Linked DNA regions of Homo sapiens. The protein of the gene in region 7 purifies or fractionates together with the protein of the main gene of each other region. This does not show direct contact. Each region holds a gene or a part of one and is shown on either strand. Other genes may lie near its edges. The genes, in order: CDC42BPG, UTRN, KIF3A, GTPBP6, TBC1D2B, SNAP29 and LURAP1.

Region 1 (3,500 bases), on a different chromosome or scaffold from region 7:
GGCGCTACCCCAGGGCTCTGGCGGACCCTCACCTTCTTGAGCGGCACGGTCTGCACCCATTCTGCCCTCCTCACGTCAAACACATCGATGGAGTTCTCGCTGAACACTGTCAGGTAGGGGGCCGCATACCCTGCGGGCACGCCAGGCACCTCTGAGCTGTTTCCCCCTCTGTTCCACAGGGAACACCTTGTCCCCTGCCACAGCACAGTAACTACCATGCCCCACGCTAAGGTCCTTCCTCTGAAGACTCCCTGTCGCCCGGCCCAGCCTCCACATCAAATCAGAGATAACCCTGGACCACTCACCACATGCCTGGCTCAGTTCTAAACACGACATGCTTTTCCTGCCTTAATTTTCTAACAACTCTGAGCAAGTACTACTGTTATAATCCCTAATTTCCAGATGAGGGAATGGAACCCCTGGAGCCATGTGATGGTCAAGGTCAGGTCACTCAGCTGGTCCTGAGAGCTGCGATTTGGCCCTGGGCAGCTTGGGTGATATGCGGCACCCAACCTGCAGGCCCCACCCCAAAGAGCCATTGCTCACGAAGGACACTCTGCCCCTCTCTTCCAGCCCTTACCCATCATGCTAGTTACTTGTGCATGCACCAGACTGCCCCACTGCCTCATTCATTCATTCATTCACTCTTCCACTCATTCCTCCAAGCCCATCGCCCCTGGAGTGTGCCACCCTGGGCTGGGGGCTTGATGTGGATGAGGAAACCAGCCCCGGCCCATTCTGTGGGACCCCAGTGCACCAAGCCAGTCATGAAGTGGAGGCGATGAGAGCCGTGACACAGGTCTGGACGGAGAGAGAGTGGGGCAAAGAGAAGGAAAGGACCAATGACGGGGAAGCAGGGCGGGGAGCACGAAGGCAATGGTGACCACAGCAATCGCAGCGGTTATCTTTGGAGCGCCTACCAGCTCCAGGCCCTGAGCTGACACTGGGGTGGTACCTAGTTAAGAGTTTGCCAGGTACAGGCCGGGGCCGGTGGCTCACACCTGTAATCCCAGCACTTTGGGAGGCCGCGCGGGAGGATTGCTTGAGTTCAGGAGTTTGAGACTCCCAGCCTGCGCAATATGGCGAAACCCCATCTCTGAAAAAATACAAAAATTAGGCTGGACGCGTTGGCTAACGCCTGTAATCCCAGCACTTTGGGAGGCCAAGGCAGGTGGATCACTTGGTCAGGAGTTTGAGACCAGCCTGGCCAACATGGTGAAACCCCGTCTCCACTAAAAATACAAAAATTAGCTGGGTGTGGTGGCGTGCACCTGTAGTCCCAGCTACTAGGGAGGCTGAGGCAGGAGAATCACCTGAACCCGGGAAGCAAAGGTTGCAGTGAGCCGAGATCACACCACTGCACTCCAGCCTGGCGACAGAGTGAGACTCCTCTGTCTCAAACAAAACAAAACAAAAATTAGCCAGGCGTGATGGCACACACCTGTGCCCCCAGTTACTCGAGAGGGTGAGGTGGGAGGATCACTTGACCCCAGGAGGCGGAGGTGGCAGTGAGTCGAGATTGTGCCACTGTACTCCAGCCTGGTGACAGACAGAGACCCTGTCTCAAAAGAAAAAAAAAGTTTGCTAGATAGAAACAAAAGGAGAGCGGCTCAGGCAGGAGAGGAGCATGAGCTCAGCCATGGAAAAGGAAGGTCCCCTGCAAGCCACAGAGGGTGGGACAGGGTGTTGTTGGGCTGGAGGATGCAAACTGGCACCAAAGGCCTCCAATGCCAGGCTCATGAGTTGAGGCGGGACCCTGTCTTCACCCACCCACTGAAGGTGCCTGGCCCCCCTGCCAAGCCCTCAGCAGGCCTTACCCCAGCCCATGGGCGCTGCTGGCCACAACAGCTCGTGGCCACGAGACTTGCGGCCTGCGCCATCCACGTAGATGCCAGCAGTGGTGAAGAGTAGCAGGAACTCGCTGAGGCTAAGCTCCACGGCACCCAGTGCCTCACCCAGGCCCCCGCGGGATGGTGGCAGCTCCTCAGGCACCAAACCGGCCCCCAGCGCCAACGGCGCAGCCTCGTTGAGCAGCGGGTAGAGTGCAAAGCCACCGGCGGCGCCCACACATAGCCGGTCGCCCAGCAGCCCCAGGCTCTGCACAGTGGCAGGTGCCTGCAGCTCACGGATGCGGCGCTGCCAGGGCCCAGGGCCCGGGCCCAGCTGGTAGCAGAGCACCTGGCGCTTGACGGCTACACAGAGCACCGGGGTGCGGGCCTGCAGGATGCTTCCAGCTGCCAGCACCTGGCAGCCTCGAGACTCGGGGATCTTGGCACCTGCTACCTCTATGTTCTCCAGCTCCGCCAGGGCAAAGAGACGCACGCTGGGGCCGCGGCCACACAGCACGACCAGCAGGCCTGCACTGGGGCTCAAGGTCAGCTGCTGCACGCGCCGGCACTCCCCCACCTGGAAGATGTCTGCAGGGTTGGCGAGGGGAGAGTGTCACTGGCAGGTGGTTGAAGAGTGACCCATCCCCATCCTCCTCTGCCCGCTGGGGCTGCCCCTGCCCACGCCCACCCTAGCCCAGCTTTGATAGGTACCGTTGCTGCGCAGATGGATGACAAAGAGCCCCTCCTCGGTGCCAAGCGCAAGTCGATCCTGGTCTGGTAGAGGGAGGCAGAGGGTCAGAGGTCAGCAGTCCCACTCAATGACACGGAGATTGGGCAGTCCACCTGCCCTGCTGTGCCTGTTTATCTTGAGGAAATGGGGGTGGCAATAATCCCGCTGTCCCTGCCTCACTGACCCTTCTCTCCCAGTCTGGACAGGCTTTTCCAGAGGGGTTGGGGTGAGGCCCATCATCTTGAGCTGTGGGATTTTGGGTAAGTCATGTCACCTCTCAGAGCCTTGGTTTCCTTATGTAAACTGGGGACAACGATGGTACTTCCTCACAGAGCAACTCTGAGGAAGCGAGGAAGTGATGCAGGGGAGGGTTCAGCAGAGCCCCTTGCTCAATAAATCCCCTCCCCTCTGGTTCCCGACTGCTCCAGGGACCCGCACAACCTCTCCTGTGTCTCCCGCCCTGAGAGCCGGGCCTGGCTCAGGGCCTCAGCTGCTGGGGAACGCCAAGGAGCTCTGTTTCATGCCTCTTTCCCAGCCTTAGTTACAGAAGAGCCCTGCTGAGCCCCAGGTTCAAGGCTGAGCACAAGTGAAGCTCTTCGCAGCTCCACCCAGGAGATGTTATGAGGCTCTGGGTGGTTCTACAGCAGCTCCCCCAGTCCCCCAGCTTGTAGTGAGACAGCCAGGACTGAACCTTCGTTTCTCTCTTTCTAAAGCCTTTGTTCCAGCTGGGCACGGTGGCCCATGCCTATAATTCCAGCACTTTGGGAGGCCAAGGTGGGTGGATCACCTGAGGTCAGGAGTTCGAGACCAGCCTGGCCAACATGCTGAAACCCCGTCTCTACTAAAAATACAAAAAATAGCCAGGCGAGGTGGTGCATGCCTGCAATCCCAGCTACTCTGGAGGCTGAGACAGGAGAATCGCTTGAATCTGGGAGGCGGAG
Region 2 (3,500 bases), on a different chromosome or scaffold from region 7:
CCACCTCAGCCTCCCAAAATAACAGGTGTAAGCCATTATAACAGGTGATATAACAGCCTCCCAAAATAACAGGTGTTAGGCAAAATAACAGATGTTAGCCTCCCAAAATACCAGGGATAACAGGTGTCAGCCATTGTACCTGACCTGGATATAATGATTTTTAAAGATTTTTTTTTTTTTTTTTTTTGAGAAACAGGTGCAATTTCTTCCTTTGGTTGAGGAGGCCACTTAATATCATTGCTAGGAGGATCAAAATGAATGATCCCTTACTTCTGTTTCCTCAAAATAGTTAAAGTTTTGGCAGTCTCATACTGTCTTTTAAAAGAAATCATATTCCACTGTCAGATTCAGAAAAATTTTAGAGTTCTTACTTTTGGAATACACTTGGTTTTGGAAGGTTCACTGTTAAAGATTTTGAAAGCTCATCCCTCCTACGTTACACTATTTACTTCCTAGCTGCCATTTGAGTTAGGAACTGTGTTGCATTGTGCATTATTTTGTGAAATGCATTGAGCATTGTGTGAAATGCTCCACATGTAACCCAGCCTAACTTCAGCAATTGTAGATTGTGTGATGACTGGAAGTGTCTGTATGTGTGCATGCTAGGCAAATGTGTCGTATTGCCTTTCTTCTGAAAGTGCATCTGGACAGCATGTCTTTGTTCCTTGAATTCAGTTATGTGAAATATGTCTTTGAGGGTACCTCTTTCTCCACTTATTGGTACAAGCTGTGCTTTCACTTTTGACAAGGATCAGTAGGCAGTTTAACTTTTGCTGCTAGTTGGTTTCACCTCTTTGTGCTTCAAGAGAACTCACTTCCTTTCCACGCAAGTGTTACTTCTGTGATATTTTTACATTAGTGACTGAGGTAGACACTGTTCCAGCTGGCTGTTCAGTCATTATTTCTCAGGGTACCTGGGCAGCATGGTGGCAGTATTTCCATATAATCTCCTCCACTCTGGACCTGGGTTTGTCTACACGGTGGAGCTTACAGCAAGACTGGTTGAAGGGATCTTTGTTTTCTTTTATTCTTTGTGTAGCTGTTAAGGAAGAGGAGATTATATGGAACAAAAGGGACATTGTTGTTCCATCTTCAGAGAGACATTTCATCATGAAGAAATGAAGAAAAATTATAGTGGGTTAGTTAATATTTCAAACGTCAACATCCGCAGGAATGAAGTCACTGTCTGACTCTCAGAAATGCCAATGGAATGATCTATGTTGTTAATTAACAGAGACCCTTTTACATTTTAATCATGGGGTCTCCTTTGCCATGTATTGGAATTCATTTAGGATAATGGTCTATGTAATAATATTGGTTCCTAATATGATTTTTTCAAACTAAATATTTTTAAATAAACAGAACTGAAGGGCCAACCTGGACATGCATATCTGGAAACATTGAAAACACTGAAAGATGTGCTAAATGATTCAGAAAATAAGGCCCAGGTGTCTCTGAATGTCCTTAATGATCTTGCCAAGGTGGAGAAGGCCCTGCAAGAAAAAAAGGTAACATATATCTTCCATGTTAGAACTCTAGCGCTTCTTCTAATATCTCCTCTTACATATTTTGAAATGTTTTTTCAGAGATTAAAAAAAAAGTTGGTCAGTTTTGTTCATCATTGGTGCAAAAATGTGTTTATGATTTGAGGGTTAGTTTGACCTCACATAAAAGAAAGTACAGTTATTAAAAATTTTTTCATAGAAGAAAAGCATATTTTCTCCTTCTGCTGTGATTAGCTTAAAATTCTCAACCTGTTCATAAAATCTGCTAAAATATCTTTATGAAATGAGGACTATCAGTTGACGTGTTGATGTATACTTTTTTCTGCATCGAATAGGAATGTTTCCGAGGTCATTTAGTTGAGTAGCCTTATGGCTCTGTGCTATTAGATGAAAAGGAGAGCAGCCATTGAGCACTGCACACTTGGCCCACACTGGGTTTGCTGTTCCCTTGGTTTTTAGGGTTGAGAATACACTGTATTGCCCACACACAACTCATGAAGAAAAAGCTTTAATTTTTATGATTATGCCTATTTTTTTCATGAGTTTTTCATGTTTTGTTTTGTTTTGTTTTTTGATTTCCAACTTTTATTTTAAGTTCAGGGGTACTTGTGCAGGATGTGCAGGTTTGTTAAATGGGTAAACGTGTGTCATGGTAGTTTGCTGCACTACGTATTAAGCCCAGCATCCATTAGCTCTTCTTCCTGATGCTTTCCCTCCCACCATGCCCCACCCTCCAACAGACCCCAGTGTGTGTTTTTCCCCACCATGTGTCCGTATGTTCTCATTATTCAGCTCCCACTTATAAGTGAGAATATGCGGTATTTTTTTTTGTTGTTTCTGAATTAGTTTGCCGAGGATAATGGCTTCCAGCTCCATCCATATACCTGCAAAGGACATGATCTTGTTCCTTTTTATGGCTGCATAGTATTCCATGGTTGATATGTACCACATTTTCTTTAAGTAGTCTATCATTGATGGGCATTTGGGTTGATTCCTTGTCCTTGCTATTGTGAATTGTGCTGCAATGAACATAGTGTGCATATATCTTTATAACAGAATGATTTGTATTCCTTTGGGTATATACCCAGTGAGATTGCTGGGTCAAATGGCATTTCTGGTTTTAGGTCTTTGAGGAATCACCACACTGTCTTCCACAGTGGTTGAACTAATTCACACTCCCACCCACTGTTCTTTTTAGATAAAAATGCTTTCTAATGCATTTTAAAGTGACTTTTGACTTTATATAGCCCATTTTACTATATCTGTGCAGACACATTTTTGTGCATATTTTTAATCTTTTAAAACTTTTTCCAGACCCTTGATGAAATCCTTGAGAATCAGAAACCTGCATTACATAAACTTGCAGAAGAAACAAAGGCTCTGGAGAAAAATGTTCATCCTGATGTAGAAAAATTATATAAGCAAGAATTTGATGATGTGCAAGGAAAGTGGAACAAGCTAAAGGTCTTGGTTTCCAAAGATCTACATTTGCTTGAGGAAATTGCTCTCACACTCAGAGCTTTTGAGGTAAATCCAGAGGCCACTGGGAGTTTAAGTTTATTACGGGGTAAATAGTAATTATCTTATAAGATTCACGTATTTATTATTTAAATATTTTACATTCTTTCTAGATCCCCATTTATTATGTATTTAAGTTGGGACTTATCAAAGATGTACTTTTAATGTGCTAGAGAGCACATTTATTTCCTTTTGCCTGGAAGCAAAGTCAAAAGTAGAGTAAACTGGACCTTGAAGATAAGAGAAAATTGCTTAAAAATGGTCAAAATAATGTTTCAGGCATGGAGGGCCTGTGTGAAATACAGACTGTTGATTAGATTATAGTAGTAACTTGGTTGGGGTGGTAGAAATAGCCCAGGTAGTAGTAAATTGCTGAATACATGAAACTACTTTTTGCAGGTTTTTGACATTTGAAGTCAAAAGTCAGAGATAGGCCATTGACAGTGTCAGAGTGGGAAGGCAAATCGTTCCAGGGAC
Region 3 (3,500 bases), on a different chromosome or scaffold from region 7:
AAGACTGTTAAATTATAACATTTTCTACAAAACATTCATAAGATCAGTCATCTCATACTTAAAATGCAACAAATGTTAGACAATTAGAATGTGTTCAAACAGGCTGGGTGGGTGTTAGGACGGAATCATTCTTTAGATGTACAGTCCAAACATTCATATATAACAGCGCAACATAGGACAATCTGATCTGCTTCTTTCTATGTGCAAAACAGGACACAGTTTTTTTTTTTCTATTTTGAAATTCTAGTTACCTAAATATACAGTAGTTGGATAAATAGCTAATCGATTTACACATACATCTAAACTGTAACTCTCTATAGTATGAACTGTTCCCCCAACTTCCCTGCACAGTACAATTGAAGAGTAGTAGTACAACAATTTGAACAATCACCAGTTGTACAATTTTAATGTTATATTAATATATGTAGACTAAAAGTTCTTAAGCAAATTATTATTTCCAGTCTTATTCATTGATCTACAACTTCCATTAATTGAAATTATAGAGAAGTCTTCACTGTTTTAATTAAAGATTTTGTCCAGGCATGAGAATATCACTAATTTTTATTGTGACTTTAAGTCTGTAACATTTACTGCAGTAAAGAGTCAATTACAGTTTCAGGCTTTGCAGAACGCTTTCTGTTTGGAGAAGAAAAAAAGCAATCATGAATGCTTTCCTAAAAGACTGAAATGCAAACATTTAACATTATATAGAAACTATGGGGTGGCCTGTATAGTCTGGAAACAAGCCAAAATTTGACACGTTTGACCATGGTAAGTGTTCAATTAATGCTCGCCTTTTCAGGCTACGGGAAGCTAACTTAAAGTAAATGCAAGAGGATGGCAGCCCACCCCATTATGCCAGATAGTGAAGGATAGGACAGGTGATAATTTCCAAGACTAGACTAGGTCATGTGGCCAGGCCAAGTGAGCTGCATGCTTGCCAGATTTGAACTTCCTGATTATCTCTTCTGAGGTACTCAAAAGGTGCAAGTGGATTCAGAGGAAATCAGAAACAAATCATCTCAGGCAATACCTGATGCATATGTAGGGACTTATGGAAATGCTACATTAATGTATTATATTTATTGCAATTTTGCCTAGCCCATCTAACTATGTGTTTCTAACAAGGAACATCACATTGAACATATCATATAATGTAACATAGCATCAATAAACCATTTAATGCATGTATTTGTCCATGTTTATGGCTACCATTTTCTTAGGGTTTCCATGGTTATAGCAGGCCAATTCCAGTATACAGAGATGGTGAGTTTGGCTCATATAATGTTGGGCCACACGATTTTTTTAATGTTAAACTAAAAAAATGACGTATCTTAAAATGGATGTTCTGGAAAACGTATTCAAATATCATATTATTTATTCATTTGCTTTAGGGTCCATATAGTTAAAAAAAAAAAAAGTAAAATTGACAGATCTCAAGTAAATAATTCGAATTTCTGGCTTTTCCTTAGAAAAGAGAAGATCCAGGCCAGGCACGGTGGCTCATGCCTGTAATCATAACACTCTGGGAGGCTGAGGTGGGCAGATCACCTGAAGTCAGGGGTTCGAGACCAGCCTGGCCAACAGGGCAAAACCCCATCTCTAGTAAAAATACTAAAATTAACTGGGCATGGTGGCAGGTGCCAGTAATCCCAGCTACTCAGGGCACTCCAGCCTGGGCAACAGAGTGAGACTCCATCTCAAAAAAAAGAAAAGAAAAGAAAACAGAAGATCCAGAAACAATGAGCCCTCTATTTCCATAGATAACTAGGAAGAGAATAGCAGCCACTCACTTTAGACAGGACTGCTCACCACTGCCAATTTTTCTCCTACGCTGGGGACAAATGTCTTACCATTTATCATCACACTTGCACTGTCATTTTATTAAAAATGGAAAAAAAGATACATCTAAAGGGACTCATGTTTCTTAGAACTGATTTGCTTCACTACAATATGCTTGGCATGTGTTGGTATAGGAAAGTTTTTAACCCCTCACCTAAATGCTAAAGAATGTAAAAATTTGTACATTTTTAATATTCAACTGTTTGCCCAACCCTGAGTTCAACCATCCCAAATTTATAAGTGTTAAGTCATGTCTATGAGATTATGTAACACAAAGATATCAAAACCGTACAACTTCATCCCACATGTAACTTGAAAGTCCATGCACTCAAAGTAGGGAAAAAAGCAGCTTATTATTTCCTACATTTTAGGAGCCCCAGAGTCTTAAAATCAGCTTAAATAAACTGAACAGTCCTTGATGTAGGAAAGGGAAAGGAAAAAAAAATAAGCTCCAGCCCAGGACTCCCATATCCCGATTTCCCTGAGCTTATGTGATGATACACGCAGACTACCCAACAGTCAAAACCAGTGCCCAAAGGAGAGGGGGAAATGTCCAAGGAAGTTCTCCTTAGCTGGTGACTGAGGAAATCAAGGTTCTTGGGGCACCTGACAGAAAAACTAACCAGCTGAATACAATACCTTGGGAGACCAAACAGGCAAATTAATTAGCATTTCATAAGAAGAATTAGTCTAAGAATTAAGGAATTAAACCCATTATACATTTGGAAATAACAGAGTGAATTAAAAATAAATTCTATTACTCAGAAGCCTAAGAAGTTGGAAGACCTTAATTCTTTGGCCAGATTTTATTTACTCAAATTCTAATACATAAGGAATTTGATTTTTTTTTTTTTTTTTTGAGACCAAGTCTTGCTCTGTCACCCAGGCTGAAGTTCAGTGGCATGATCTCATGATCTCGGCTAACTGCAACCTCCGGCTCCTGGGTTCAAGCGATTCTCATGCCTCAGCCTCCCCAGTAGCTGGGATTACAGGCATGCGCCACCATGCCTGGTTAACTTTTGTATTTTTAGTAGAGACAGCGTTTCACTATGTTAGCCAGGCTGGTCTCAAACTCCTGACCTCAAATGATCCACCTGCCTCGGCCTCCCAAAATGCTGGGATTACAGGCGTGAGCCACTGTGCCCAGCCAGGAATTTGATTTTTAATAAATCAGCCAAAATATGTATCATGTTTTAACTAAATAAATTTTAACTTCCTGTACATGTATCTAATTAGAATACCTCAATGCCTTCGTTTTACCAGATTCAAGGACAGTCCTTACCTTCTCCCTGTCTTTGGCCTTGCTTTCCCCTTTGAAGTTCGTGGTCTTTCTAGTTTCATCAAAGACTGACGCAGACTCTCCTCAGTATAGGCAAGATACACGTGAGAAAGGTCCACCTCAAAGGGCTAAGTAAAAGAAACAAACACAAAGCACTCTTAAGGCAAAGAGTTAAAGCCAGATTTGGGGGAAGATTTAAAATACTGAATAAACTCCTTGATCAAACCCACAGAAGCTAAAACCAAAGAAATGTCTAATGACATCATCTTCTAATCCCAGTATCTAAAATGTACTTAATAAAGGTTGGTGAGTAAGAAGCCCTGACACACTATAAATTTCCTTGGACATAAAAACTGTTGCTGTTTTTCTTAAAGCTGCC
Region 4 (2,269 bases), on a different chromosome or scaffold from region 7:
TTGTCAGCACAGATTAGGCAACTGTTGTATGCAGTCAGAAATGTATTTTTACTGTCAAGCACAGATTAGGCACCTGTTGTATGCAGTCAGAAATGTACATTTTGACTGTCAGCACAGATTAGGCACCTGTTGTATGCAGTCAGAAATGTACATTTTGACTGTCAGTGCAGATTAGGCACCTGTTGTATGCACAGAAATGTACATTTTGGCTGTCAAGCACAGATTAGGCACCTGTTGTATGGTCAGAAATGTACATTTTCACTGTCAGCATAATTAGGCACCTGTTGTATCCACAGTCAGAAATGTATATTTTGAGTGTCAGCACAGATTAGGCACCTGTTGTATGCAGTCAGAAATGTACATTTTGACTGTCAGCACAGATTAGGCACCTGTTGTATGCAGTCAGAAATGTACATTTTGACTGTCAGCACAGATTAGGCACCTGTTGTATGCAGTCAGAAATGTACATTTTGACTGTCAAGCACAGATTAGGCAACTGTTGTATGCAGTCAGAAATGTATTTTTACTGTCAAGCACAGATTAGGCACCCGTTGTATGCAGTCAGAAATGTACATTTTGACTGTCAGCACAGATTAGGCACCTGTTGTATGCACAGTCACAAATGTAGATTTTGACTCTCAAGCGCAGATTAGGCACCTCTTGTATGCACAGTCACAAATGTACATTTGATGCAAACCCATTCATCTCGTCTGTACATCCTAAAGCTCTCGGGGATCTCACAGCTCCTTGTGCACCCACGAAGAGCCCGTTTCAGAGCCAGAGACAGGCATCCAAAGCACCATCCCGTCTCCTGCCCCTGCAGGCCGCTCACCTGAGCTGCGCCCCTGCGAGCCTCACACGGAGAGTGAGGATCTGTCTCCCCGTCGCCTTCAAAACCGCCGCATCGAGCTCAGCTTTCAGCTCCTGGAGCCCGTGGCCCCGCAGGGCAGACACGGGCACGACGTTCGGTTCCGTGGGGCTGTACCTGCAAGGGTGGGGATGTCACAGGCCCCGCTCAGCGTCGGGGCGGCCGGACGAAATCAGGGTCCCCAGGAGTCCACTGCCCACGGGGCACAGTCTGGGGCCACTCCCTGTGTCCTGACTGCCACCGCTGCGGTTCACACGAGGAGACGGGGCATCTCCCCACCCGGCTCCAGCGCGTGCAGGGGAAGGAGACGCTTGCGGACCCCAGGGCCGGACTCACCCGGGCACGAGGTCCACCTTGTTGTGAACCTCCACCATGGAGTCCAGGAGCGGGGCGGGCAGCTGCAGGCCACGCAGCGTGGACAGAACGCTGCATTTCTGGAGCTCCGCCTCGGGGTGGCTGACGTCCCTCACGTGCAAGATGAGATCCTGTGGGCCGGGCCGTGGGGTCAGAGCTGCGGAGCCTCTGGTCCCTGACCCCAAGCTTGCAGACAGGCCCAGGAGAGGGGCTCACACGAGCTCCCAACGACAGGCTGGGCATGGGAGGTACGCCTGTGTGCAGGCCCCTCGGACACCCCAGGACGGGGGCTCCTAGACCAACAGTGGACGCGAGCCCACCCGGCTGCACTTACCCAACCTTCCAAGCCACAGGCAGCAGCTCCGCACCCCCAGACCCACACGCAAGGGGGTGCCATATATGAGCACCCAACCACCACCCACCCACCCAGGGGGTCTTCATTCAAAGCTTTAGGGCGGCTTCATCCTCCTGTGAAATGTCTTTTAACAGCGGAATTATTTCCTCTTTAAAGGATGCTTTTTTTCTCACGTTCAAAAAAAATCTTACAGGCAGGCTCCTTACACAAAATTTGAAAAACACAGGGAAAAAAAAATAAAGCCGTGTGTAATTCTCCAACTTATACTACCGGGGTATCCACGTCTACTTTTTGTTTGTTTGGATGCACTTAATACAAATAATATTTTTCCTGTAACTGAGGCACTTTGGGAGGTGGCTTGAGCCCAGAAGTTTGAGACCAGCCTGGGCAAGAGAGTGAGGCCGTTTCTACAGAAAGTACAAAAATTAGCCATGGCCTGGTTGTGCGTGTCTGTGGTCTCAGCTACTCAGGAGGCTGAGGTGGGAGGATCACTTGAGCCCAGGAGGTCGAGGCTGCAGTGAGCCGAGATCATACCACTGCGGTTCAGTCTGGGTGACAGAGCGAGACCCTGTCTCTAAAGAAGAAAAGTAAAAACAAAAAAAATAATTTCATCCCAGGAAAGTTTTACTTTTTTTTTTTTTTTTTTTTTGAGACGAGTCTCGCTCTGTCACACAGGCTGGAGTGCAGTGGCG
Region 5 (3,500 bases), on a different chromosome or scaffold from region 7:
AGCTACCAAATCCCCACTTCTCACACTGGATTCTAGTTCTCCCAGGCAATCTCTGCAAAGGCTAAGAAAATGGCCAAGCATGCAAACTCATTAGAAGATGGTGATTCCCAGCTTACAGGGAACACATGTTGCTGATCAAACAGGAACTAAGTCTTTGAGCAGCTACACAATTATACCAACATTTACTAACTCCCTTGTCCCATCTTCTTCAGGGAGCTTTCTTGATAATCAGTTATACAGAACTCTCCAATTCTGCAGTGTTCACCAAAATTATTACACAAATCACAGATTTCTGGCCCTGGGCCATATCCAGATTAGTATTTTACATATGGATGCCCCCTCCCCTTCCTTTACTATGGAGAAGTGCCAGACTTCTCAGAATCAAAAAACTTGCAGACATGTGATATTTATCTCAGTGCTGAATACTACAGACAAACATGGGCCTCTTCAATGTTTTTTTCAAAACTCTTACAATTCTTTGATTATATCAGATGCTAAGCTATTTTTAAAGTTAACACTACAGTTTCTTAAATCAATGGAAAATTTTCACTGCTGTATTTGCAGCAAGCAGCATAGTGCTTAGAATATGATAGATGCTCAAAAATATTTGCTGAGTAAATGGACACTACAAACGTCCGTTTCACCATGAAATGAAAGCACACACACCACACCCACACACACACACACACACACACACACACACACACACAGAGGATATGAGGGCTTAAAGCATGCATTTAGCCAACAAGCATCTAACAGGTGCTGGGATCCTCTAAGTATGAAAGGCACAGTAGTGAAATACACTGACAAAATATCCTAGGAGGTGATGCTCTGGTAGGACACAACAGCAGACACTCAAAGACTAGACCAGGAGCAAAACCATCCTGAATCTGTAGCCGACTGAGGGCCTCCTGTGCTGGCTGGTGAGCTACTGCCTGCTGGACAATCACGAAAGCCACAGTCTCCCCAGGGATCCTCTCAGCTTCTTGCCCCTCACATGGCCTCACATATCTGAATGCCAAGATGTTTACTGAACTGAGCACTCCAGGCAAAGTACTTCACAGAACACTAGTTACAAGCCACTAACTAGTCACCACTACCCAGTTTACCATTTCCACATTGCATTCACTCTGTGAAAGCAAACAAAACCCAGCTGAGGGCTGGCCTGACAGGATATGGGTGAACACCCGATCACATGTCATTAAGATCCCACTACATAAATACCAGAACCGAAAATTGCTAATGAAAATGCCTCTCCCTCTCCCAAACTGACAGTCACTTCTACAATGGTGGGGGTCTTTTTCTTTCTTTAGAGGAAGGGGGTGTTACTGTTTGTATTTTGTTCTGACTGGAGGTGGGAAGTCTGCACCCCAGTGGCTCAAAGGTAAAAGCAACTGATCGAGGAGACTGGTCCACCCCCCTCAGACGTGAGGTGGGAGCTGGTACATCTGAATACTCCTTCCATTTCTCAAGAAATCGTCATCTCCACAGAGGAAGGAAACTGGTAATGTGCATATGAGCAAAGCAAGTGCAGCAGGAGAGAAGTCAATGCCGGGGGCCATTAGGAATGCTTCAGGAAAGGAAGTCCACCAGGGCGGGCCGGCCCTAGCCACACACACACCTGCCAAAGCGAGCTTCACCCATCACAACACCCACCACTCAGAAACAAAATTAAGAAGCAACTGCTCAAGATAGGTTCAGCTTTGCATTTATCTACTTTTAAATCTGTTTGCCAGTACATAACATATAAATACATCAACCCTTTGTACCCAACACGATAATCCTCTAACTTAGTTACATAAAAATACTAGGCATGACCAAACCATCAGTGCCACAGTCCAAACGTGTGTCCCCGCAAAATTCACGTGTTGAGACCCAGTCCCCAAGATGATAGTACTAAGAGGGAAGCCTTGTGGGAAGTGATTTAAGTCATGAGGGCAGAGCCCTCTGGAATGAGATCAGGGTCCTTATGAAAGAGGCCAGAGTGGTAAAAGGAATTTGAGGAGAAAAATACATTTAGATAGATAGATACATACATACATATATACAAACATACATAGATGGAGGCCCCAGAAGGAACTTGTCTGTCCCCTTCTGCTATGAGGACACCACTAGAAGGCACCACCTCTAAAGCAGAGTGAGCCCTCACCAGACACCAAATCTGCTGGTGCCTTCATCTTGGGCTTCCCAGCCTCCAGAACTATGAGAAATAAATTTCTGTTGTTTATAAGCTACCCTGTCTACGGTATTTTTTCACAGCAGCACAAATGGCCTAAAACAATCTATCTGGGAGCAGAAGAAAGAAAACAAAAACCTATTTGTCAAACCCTGCTTAAAACTCTTTACTGACTCTAGCTCTTAAGATGAAGACCAAAATCCTGCCCTGGCCCAAGGCCTGCCTCTTCCAAAGGCTATGTCCCCTTCACTCCTAGTTGCCACCAGGCACTCCTTGAGTCCCACATGCAACCAGCACCCCCACCTAAGGGCCTCTGCTTATGCCATTTCCTCTCCCTACAACACTTGACTTCCTCCTCTCCACCCCCACCCCCGCTCCAGTCAACACCAACTCATCCTTTGAGTCTCAGCTCAAATGTCGCTTCTTCAGGAAAGTCTTTCCTAGCCCTCCACCAACCATAAACCAGATCAAGATCCTGAACTATACATGCATTGCATATCTTTCCTTTCAAACTTCCTAGCACTGGTTGGTGTTTGTTATATTTTATTAACGTCTGTCCCCCCCACCTACTGAAAGCTCCAGGAGGACAGGGACTGTTTGTCTTGTCCAGTCATATCCCCAGTGCCTAAGCACACACAGTGAGTGAATGAGTGGGAAGCTCCTGAGGCCTTCCTAGAACACAAGTCAGTGAACTACAGCCTGCGGTCATTTCCAGTCTCTGCCTATTTCTGTACAATCTACAAGGCAAGGGCAGTTTTAACATTTTTATTTTGCTATTTTATTTTTTTGAAACAGGGTCTCCCTCTGTCACCCAGGCTGGAGTACAGTGGAGCAAACACAGCTCACTGCAATGTCCACCTCCTGGGATCAAGCAGTCCTCCTGCCTCAGCCTCCCAAGTAGCTGGGACTAAAGACATGTGCCATCATGCCTGGCTAGTTTGTTTTTTGTTTTGAGACAGAGTTTCGCTCTTGTCGCCCAGGCTGGAGTGCAATGGCGCCACCTCAGCTTGCTGCAACCTCTGTTTCCTGGGTTCAAGCAATTCTCCTGCCTCAGCCTCCCAAGCAGCTGGGATTACAGGCATCCGCCACCACACCCAGCTAATTTTGTATTTTTAGTAGAGACAGGGTCTCACCATGCTGGTCAGGCTGGTCTCAAACTCCTGACCTCAAGTGATCCACCCACCTCGGCTTCCCAAAGTGCTGGGATTACAGGCGTGAGCCACCACATCCAGCCACACCTGGCTAGTTTTTTTTAATTTTTGTAGGGATAGGGTCTCACTTTGTTGCCTAGGCTGGTCTCGAACTATTGGTATCAAGTGATCCT
Region 6 (3,500 bases), on a different chromosome or scaffold from region 7:
TGGCTCATGCCTGTAATCCCAGCACTTTGGGAGGCCGAGGCGGGTGGTTCGAGACCAGCCGGGCCAACATGGTGAAACCCCGTCTCTACCAAAAATACAAAAAACTAGCCAGGCATGGTGGCAGGCGCCTGGAATCCCAGCTACTCAGGAGACTGAGGCAGGAGAATCGCTTGAACACAGGAGGCAGAAGTTGCAGTGAGCTAATATCACGCCACTGCACTCCAGCCTGGGTGACAGAGCAAGACTCCATCTCAAAACAGAAAAGGAGGTGGAGAAGAGGGGTAGTGGTTGGAAGAAGGAATTCTCCTTTAGGGAAGATGTCTGGGAAGGCCTCTCTGAGAGAGTGGCCTTTGAAAGGAGACCCTAATTGGATGAGGGATGAGAGGCTGAGCCATGTAAGTATCTGGATGGAAAACATTACAGGCGGAGACAGTGGTGTGTGCAAAGGCCCTGGGACAGGGTCACCCGTGTTAACAGGTTTTAAAGCTGGAATTGTGGATGGGCTAGAGTCAGACACTAATAGGGCCCAGAGGGGACACTGGTCCTTGAAATAGAATTTGAGGATTTGACCATGGCCAGGAGGCTCAGGTGGCCCAGTGGGAACTCCTTAAATGGGAACTTCCTAAAGGAAGAATATAAGAACCAAAGTCCAGGGGGCAGTGCCAGGCCCAACCTGTGAGGGTTCCCAGAGTTGGAGGGCTAGAGAGAATCTGCTTCCAGTTCAGGCCATAGACTCTGAACCTCACAGGCACATTGCCATCCATCTCCCCTCACCCCCAACCGAGACGGAGTCTTGCTCTGTCGCCCAGGCTGGAGTACATTGGCACCATCTTGGCTCACTGCAACCTCTGCCTTCAGGGTTGAAGCAATTCTCCTGCCTCAGCCCCCCGAGTAGCTGGGATTACAGGTGCCCGCCACAACACCTGGCTACTTTTTGTATTTTTAGTAGAGAGGGGGTTTCACCATGTTGGCCAGGCTGGTCTTGAACTCCTGACCTCATGATCTGCCCGCCTCAGCCTCCCAAAATGCTGGGATTACGGGTGTGAATCACTGCGCCACCCTCTGCCATCCATCTTAACATGGCGCCATGAGCCAGCCTCTCAGGAAAAGGGTCTCATGAACAAATGAGGAAAGCAAGTAGAGGTAGGGCAGGGAGGGAGAGGCAAAGGAATGTGTTGTTGGAAAGGGTAGTGTGCCCCTCACAGATGACAGTACCCGTCTCCAGATGTGCCCACTGAGAGTTTATGAAGGGGCTGCTCCATGTGGTCCTTGACTGCCCTGGGGGAGAGTCACAGAAAGCTATAATGCCACTGCCTCTCGGTTTCCCCAGGAGCTCGCCCGTCAGCGAGGAGTCCTGGAGCGCACAGAGAAGATGGTGGACAAGATGGACCAAGATTTGAAGATCAGCCAGAAACACATCAATAGCATTAAGAGCGTGTTTGGGGGGCTGGTCAATTACTTCAAATCCAAACCAGTAGAGACCCCACCTGAACAGAATGGCACCCTCACCTCCCAGCCCAACAACAGGTGAGTGCATCTTCTACCATCTGGGTATAAAGGAGCAGAAGTGGGGATTAGTGCAAATGACCAAGACTTTCAGTCCACGTCAGTGCCATGAAGGGATCCAACAACCCTTTAAGTTACTCATCAGGGGATATTTGTCCTCAAACATTGTGAAACCAGGAACTGTTCTTCCCTGATCCCATGTTCACTTGATTGACATCTAGTCTGTCAATAGCTTCTCCAATAATTGTGACCCCACTACTTTGAAAGAGAGGGTGTTCACCTCAGCGTAATCTGTACAAATGTGACTCACTTCACATAATTTTTGCTTTAAAAAATCTTTAGGGCTGGGTGCAGTGGCTCACACCTGTAATCCCGACACTTCAGGATGCCAAGGTGGGTAGATTGCTTAAGCCCAGGAGCTCGAGACCAGCCTGGGCAACATAGTGGGAACCCAGTCTTTACAAAAATTACCCAGGCATTGTGGTGCACACCTGTAGTCCCAGCTCCTCAGGAGGCTGAGGTAAGAGGATCTCATGAGGCCTGGAGATCAAGGCTGCAGTGAGCTGTAATGGTGCACTCCAACCTGGGCTACAGAGGGAGGCCCTGTCTCAAGAAAAAAAAAAAAAAAAGTCTTTATGTCTAAATTTGTCATATCTAATCCAATTCGCCCATTGATTTTTATTTGAAAATTATAAGGCTGGGCTCAGTGGCTTATCTGTAAAATCCCATGCTTTCAGAGGCTAAGGTAGGAGGATTGTTTGAGACCAGCCTAGACAACATAGCAAAGACCCGTCTCTATAAAAACTAAAAAAAAAAAAAAATTAGCCAGACATGATGGCACGTGCCTATATTCCTAGCTACAGGGGAGACTGAGGTGGAAGGATTGCTTTAGCCCAGGTGTTAGAGACTAGAGTTAAGCTATGATGGTGCCACTGCACTACAGCATCAGTGACAGAGTCTCCCTGTCTCTAAAAAAAAAAAAAAAAAAAAAAAGATTTAAAGCTAAATAATTAAAATCAAAAAAATAAAGTTAGAAGTTGCTTTCCTCAGGTTTTGGCTCGAAATATAAAATCATACATGAGACTGGGGGCCAGGCACGGTGGCTCACGCCTATAATCCTAGCACTTGGGGAGGCCGAGGCGGGTGGATCACCAAGTCAGGAAATCAAGACCATCCTGGCTAACATGGTGAAACCCTGTCTCTATTAAAAATACAAAAAATTAGCTGGGCGTGATGGCGGGCGCCCGTAGTCCCAGCTACTCGGGAGGCTGAGGCAGGAGAATGGTGTGAACCCGGGAGGTGGAGCTTGCAGTGAGCTGAGATCATGCCACTGCACTGCAGCCTGGGCGACAGAGCAAGACTCCGTCTCAAAAAAAAAAAAATTCATGAGATTTTGGTAGACTTCAGTGTTACATGTTCAAGGATAAAGGAATGGAGTTTCTGCTGAAGTAGATTACTATTGTTTGTATTTCAGATCACTGTGTCTGTTTTTATTACAAAAACAACATGGCCACATTACAGACAATCTATACTTTACCTACCGCAACACAAAAACAGAAAATTTCATTTTCCCCTTATTCAGTATTTTCATAGTTGTAACCATAGTATTCTTTTGGTTTGATAGCCTTTTTCTTCCATTTAACCCAGAAAAACTGCTTGATATTATGTGATAACTCAGGTTCCATAACCATCTCTCTCTCTCTCTTTTATTTATTTATTTTTTATTTTATTTATTTATTTTTTTTGAGATGGAGTTTCACCCTTGTTGCCCAGGCTGGAGTGCAAAGACGTGATCTCAGCTCACTGCAACCTCTGCCTTCCAGGTTAAAGCGATTCTCCTGCCTCAGCCTCCCAAGTAGCTGGGATCACAGGTGCCCACACCATGCCTGGCTAATTCTTTTTTTTTGAGACGGAGTCTCACTCTGTCACCCAGGCTGGAGTGCAGTGGTGCGATCTCGGCTCACTGCAAGCTCCGCCTCCCGGGTTCATGCCGT
Region 7 (3,500 bases):
CTCTTTCCAAAATTTACATCTACAGCCGTGCATGGTGGCTCATGCTTGTAATCCCAGCACTTTGGGAGGCTGAGGCAAGTGGATTACCCGAGGTCAGGAGTTCAAGACCAGCCTGGCCAACATGGCAAAACCCCGTCTCTACTAAAAATACAAAAATTAGCTGTGTGGTGGCGGGTGCATGTAATCCCAGCTACTCGGGAGGCTGAGGCTGCAGTGAGCTGAGATTGGGCCACTGCACTCTAGCCTGGGCAACAGAGCGAGACTCCATCTCAAAAAAAAAAAAAGAAAAAAAAAAAGAAAACAACAACAGAACTTACATCTCCAGTCTTCTGCTAGATAAAGAATTAGGTGGCACCTGGTTGCACAGTTAGGGAGGGGATCTTAGAATATGACTTTTAAACATTCAACCAGCCCTTTTGTTTTCAGCCCCACTTGTGCCCCCAGTTCCAGAAATACCTGGTGCTTCCAACCCCTAAGACCTTTAAGGGTTTTTGCAGTATAAAATGTGTTGCTTTGGCAGGGGGCGGTGGCTCTGTAATCCCAGCACTTTGGGAGGCCAAGGCGGATGGATCACCTGAGTTCGGGAGTTCGAGACCAGCCTGACCAACATGGAGCAACCCCATCTCTACGAAAAATACAAAATTAGCTGGGCATGGTGTCACATGCCTGTAATCCCAGCTACTTGGGAAGCTGAGGCAGGAGAATTGCTTGAATCCAGGAGGCGGAGGTTGCGGTGAGCCAAGATTGCGCCATTGCACTCCAGCCTGGGCAACAAGAGCAAAACTCTATCCCCCACAAAATAAAAAAGTGTTGCTTTTCAGCTTTCCCCACTGCTGGCTCGGGACTGAGCATTTTTTAGGTCTGAGTTAGTTACCACTCTTCCTTCTGAATTTCAGTTTCCAAAATTTTGTTCCTATTACCTTGTCTCTTATTCTCATTGTCATAACGGCTTCATGCCTTTTATTTATTTTATTTATTTATTTTTCTCTTTTTGAGACAGAGTTTTGCACAGTCGTCCAGGCTGGAGTGCAGTGGCACGATCTTGGCTCATTGCAACCTCCGCCTCCAGGGTTCAAGCGATTTTCCTGCCTCAGCTTCCCTAGTAGCTGGGATTACAGGTGCACCACCACGTCCAGCTAATTTTTGTATTTTTAGTAGAGATGGGGTTTCACCATGTTGGTCAGGCTGGTCTCGAACTCCTGACCTCAGGTGATCCGCCCGCCTCGGCCTCCCAAAATGCTGGGATTACAGGCATGAGCCACCGTGCCGGCCCTCAATCTGGTATCTTGAACTGGAATTCCCACTGACTTTATTCATTCTTCAAGCCCCAGCTCAAATGTCACCTCCTCGAGGAAGTCTTCCTTGCCCTTCCTCGAGATGGAATTAATCCATTCAGTTATGGAACCAATATTTATTGTTTCTTATTGGTGTGGCACTATGTTCGATGAAGAAAGAAAAGGCATCATTTCTTACCTTCAGAAGGTTCATAATCTAGTGGGTAAGATAAGACAATGAAGCAAGCACTTAAAATTCAGTGTGGTTGGCTTGGCATTGTGGCTCAGCCTGCAATCCCAGAACTTCGGGAGGCTGACACAAACGGACTGCTTGAGGCCAGGAGTTTGAGACTGGCCTGGGCAACATAGCAAGACCCTGTCTCTATTAAAAAAATAAATAAGGCTGGTGGGGTGGCTCACACCTGTAATCCCAGCACTTTGGGAGGCCAAAGCAGGCAGATCACTTGAGGCCAGGAGTTCAAGACCAGCCTGGCCAACGTGGTGAAACCCCATCTCTACTAAAAATACAAAAATTAACTAGGCGGGTGCCTGTAATCCCAGCTACTCAGGAAGCTGAGGCAGGAGAATCGCTTGAACCCGGGAGGCAGAGGTTGCAGTGAGCCGAGATCACGCCATTGCACTCCAGCCTGGACGCCAAGAACGAAACTCCGTGTCAAAAAAAATAATGATAATAAATAAATAATTTAAAAATGAAAAGTTCAGGCCAGGTGCAGTGGCTCATGCCTGTAATCCCAGCACTTTGGGAGGCCGAGGCAGGCAGATCACGAGGTCAGGAGATCGAGACCATCCTGGCTAACATGGTGAAACCCCGTCTCTACTAAAAATACAAAAAATTAGCTGGGTGTGTTTGCAGGTGCCTGTAGTCCCAGCTACTCGGGAGGCTGAGGCAGGAGAATGGGCTGAACCCAGGAGGCGGAGCTTGCAGTGAGCCGAGATCGCACCACTGCACTCCAGCCTGGGCGACAGAGCGAGACTCCATCTCAAAAAAAAAAAAGAAAGAAAGAAAGAAAGAAAAGTTCAGTGTGGCAAACGCTAGTGGAAACAACTGCTATACAGAGGACTGTAGATACCTAGAGGGCCATAACCTAACCAGGTCAGGAAATGCTTCCTAGGATAAGGGACATGAGCTGAAAATTTAAGGTTAAGAAGGACTCAGCTAGGATGGGCGCAGTGGCTCACACCTGTAATCCCAGCACTTTGGGAGGCTGAGGCAGAAGATCACTTGAGGTCAGGACTTCGAAACCAGCCTGGCCAACATGGCAAAATCCCGTCTCTACTAAAAATACAAAAGCTAGCTAGGTGTGGTGGCACATGCCCATAGTCCCAGCTACTCAGGAAGCTGAGGCAGGAGAACCGCTTGAGCTTGGAAGGCAGAGGTTGCAGTGAACCGACATTGTACCATTGCACTCCAGCCTGGGTGATGGGAGTGAAACCCTGTGTCAAAAAAAAAAAAATAGAAGGACTCAGCCAGACAAAGAGGTGGAGAGAAGCATTTCAAGCAGAGGAAACAGCCTGTGCCTCCTTCCAATTTGAAATCGACTTTCTAGAGCACAAACCCAACCACATCACTCTACAGTGAAGACTCTTCCAGGAGGCCCTTCCTGGGTTCTACCAGCACTTATCATCCTGTACTAGAAATGTTCTTCTGTCTCCTCCTTCCCTAACCAGACTGTGAGCTCCCTGAGAGCAGATCCTGCCCAATCCATTTCTGGTGCTTGGCCCAGTGCTAAGGAGGTCACATTCAGTTCTGTGATTCTCTTGCCTTTACTATCCTTGACCCCTTTGATGGTTCCCAGGATTCAGGGGTCTGGGTTGTAGTGTGTTGCTGGGAAATAAATCTGAGAGCAGATTCTATAATCCTGTGGCAGTGGGATTCCCTGACTGTGACAGCATCACTCCCAGAATAGAAGAAAGCAAGGTTTTCTTGCCAGAAAAAGAAACACTCTTTTCACACCATCTCTTGAAGAAAATAGAGTATAGGATAAACAGCTCAGGAGAGATGCAGCCTCAGAGGCGACTCCAAACCCAATTCTCCTTCCAAGGAGATTCAGGCTCCCTACTCCTCTCCTTAACATCTACATACCAGACTCTCTGCCCAGCGCTGGGGTCCTGTATGGTTTCCTCATTGCTCAATATAAATCAGGCCCTAGGGTAAAAGCCTGGAAATCCCAGTCCGAGCTCCCAGAGCGGGGACTATCAGAATAT

What was found.
Region 1: the proteins of LURAP1 (region 7) and CDC42BPG purify together in Homo sapiens (co-immunoprecipitation; 2 studies listed by BioGRID and IntAct, with this or other methods). This does not show direct contact.
Region 2: the proteins of LURAP1 (region 7) and UTRN purify together in Homo sapiens (co-immunoprecipitation; 2 studies listed by BioGRID and IntAct, with this or other methods). This does not show direct contact.
Region 3: the proteins of LURAP1 (region 7) and KIF3A purify together in Homo sapiens (affinity purification with mass spectrometry; one large-scale study listed by BioGRID and IntAct). This does not show direct contact.
Region 4: the proteins of LURAP1 (region 7) and GTPBP6 purify together in Homo sapiens (affinity purification with mass spectrometry; one large-scale study listed by BioGRID and IntAct). This does not show direct contact.
Region 5: the proteins of LURAP1 (region 7) and TBC1D2B purify together in Homo sapiens (co-immunoprecipitation; 2 studies listed by BioGRID and IntAct, with this or other methods). This does not show direct contact.
Region 6: the proteins of LURAP1 (region 7) and SNAP29 purify together in Homo sapiens (co-immunoprecipitation; 2 studies listed by BioGRID and IntAct, with this or other methods). This does not show direct contact.

What each region holds. Positions count from the first base shown.
Region 1 is NC_000011.10:64,827,654-64,831,153, forward strand, and holds part of CDC42BPG (serine/threonine-protein kinase MRCK gamma), read right to left. Parts: intron 2,695-3,500; coding exon of another isoform or gene 2,625-2,694; exon of another isoform or gene 2,604-2,624; coding exon 2,541-2,603; intron 2,418-2,540; coding exon 1,818-2,417; intron 131-1,817; coding exon 33-130; intron 1-32. UniProt on the Homo sapiens protein: May act as a downstream effector of CDC42 in cytoskeletal reorganization. Contributes to the actomyosin contractility required for cell invasion, through the regulation of MYPT1 and thus MLC2 phosphorylation.
Region 2 is NC_000006.12:144,459,835-144,463,334, forward strand, and holds part of UTRN (utrophin), read left to right. Parts: intron 1-1,362; coding exon 1,363-1,508; intron 1,509-2,819; coding exon 2,820-3,032; intron 3,033-3,500.
Region 3 is NC_000005.10:132,696,047-132,699,546, forward strand, and holds part of KIF3A (kinesin-like protein KIF3A), read right to left. Parts: intron 3,250-3,500; coding exon 3,125-3,249; intron 637-3,124; coding exon 588-636; 3' UTR 1-587. UniProt on the Homo sapiens protein: Microtubule-based anterograde translocator for membranous organelles. Plus end-directed microtubule sliding activity in vitro. Plays a role in primary cilia formation. Plays a role in centriole cohesion and subdistal appendage organization and function.
Region 4 is NC_000023.11:306,528-308,796, forward strand, and holds part of GTPBP6 (putative GTP-binding protein 6), read right to left. Parts: intron 1,354-2,269; coding exon 1,205-1,353; intron 986-1,204; coding exon 833-985; intron 1-832.
Region 5 is NC_000015.10:78,067,712-78,071,211, forward strand, and holds part of TBC1D2B (TBC1 domain family member 2B), read right to left. Parts: intron 1-3,500. UniProt on the Homo sapiens protein: GTPase-activating protein that plays a role in the early steps of endocytosis.
Region 6 is NC_000022.11:20,869,007-20,872,506, forward strand, and holds part of SNAP29 (synaptosomal-associated protein 29), read left to right. Parts: intron 1-1,330; coding exon 1,331-1,527; intron 1,528-3,500. UniProt on the Homo sapiens protein: SNAREs, soluble N-ethylmaleimide-sensitive factor-attachment protein receptors, are essential proteins for fusion of cellular membranes.
Region 7 is NC_000001.11:46,206,334-46,209,833, reverse strand, and holds part of LURAP1 (leucine rich adaptor protein 1), read right to left. Parts: intron 1-3,500. UniProt on the Homo sapiens protein: Acts as an activator of the canonical NF-kappa-B pathway and drive the production of pro-inflammatory cytokines. Promotes the antigen (Ag)-presenting and priming function of dendritic cells via the canonical NF-kappa-B pathway.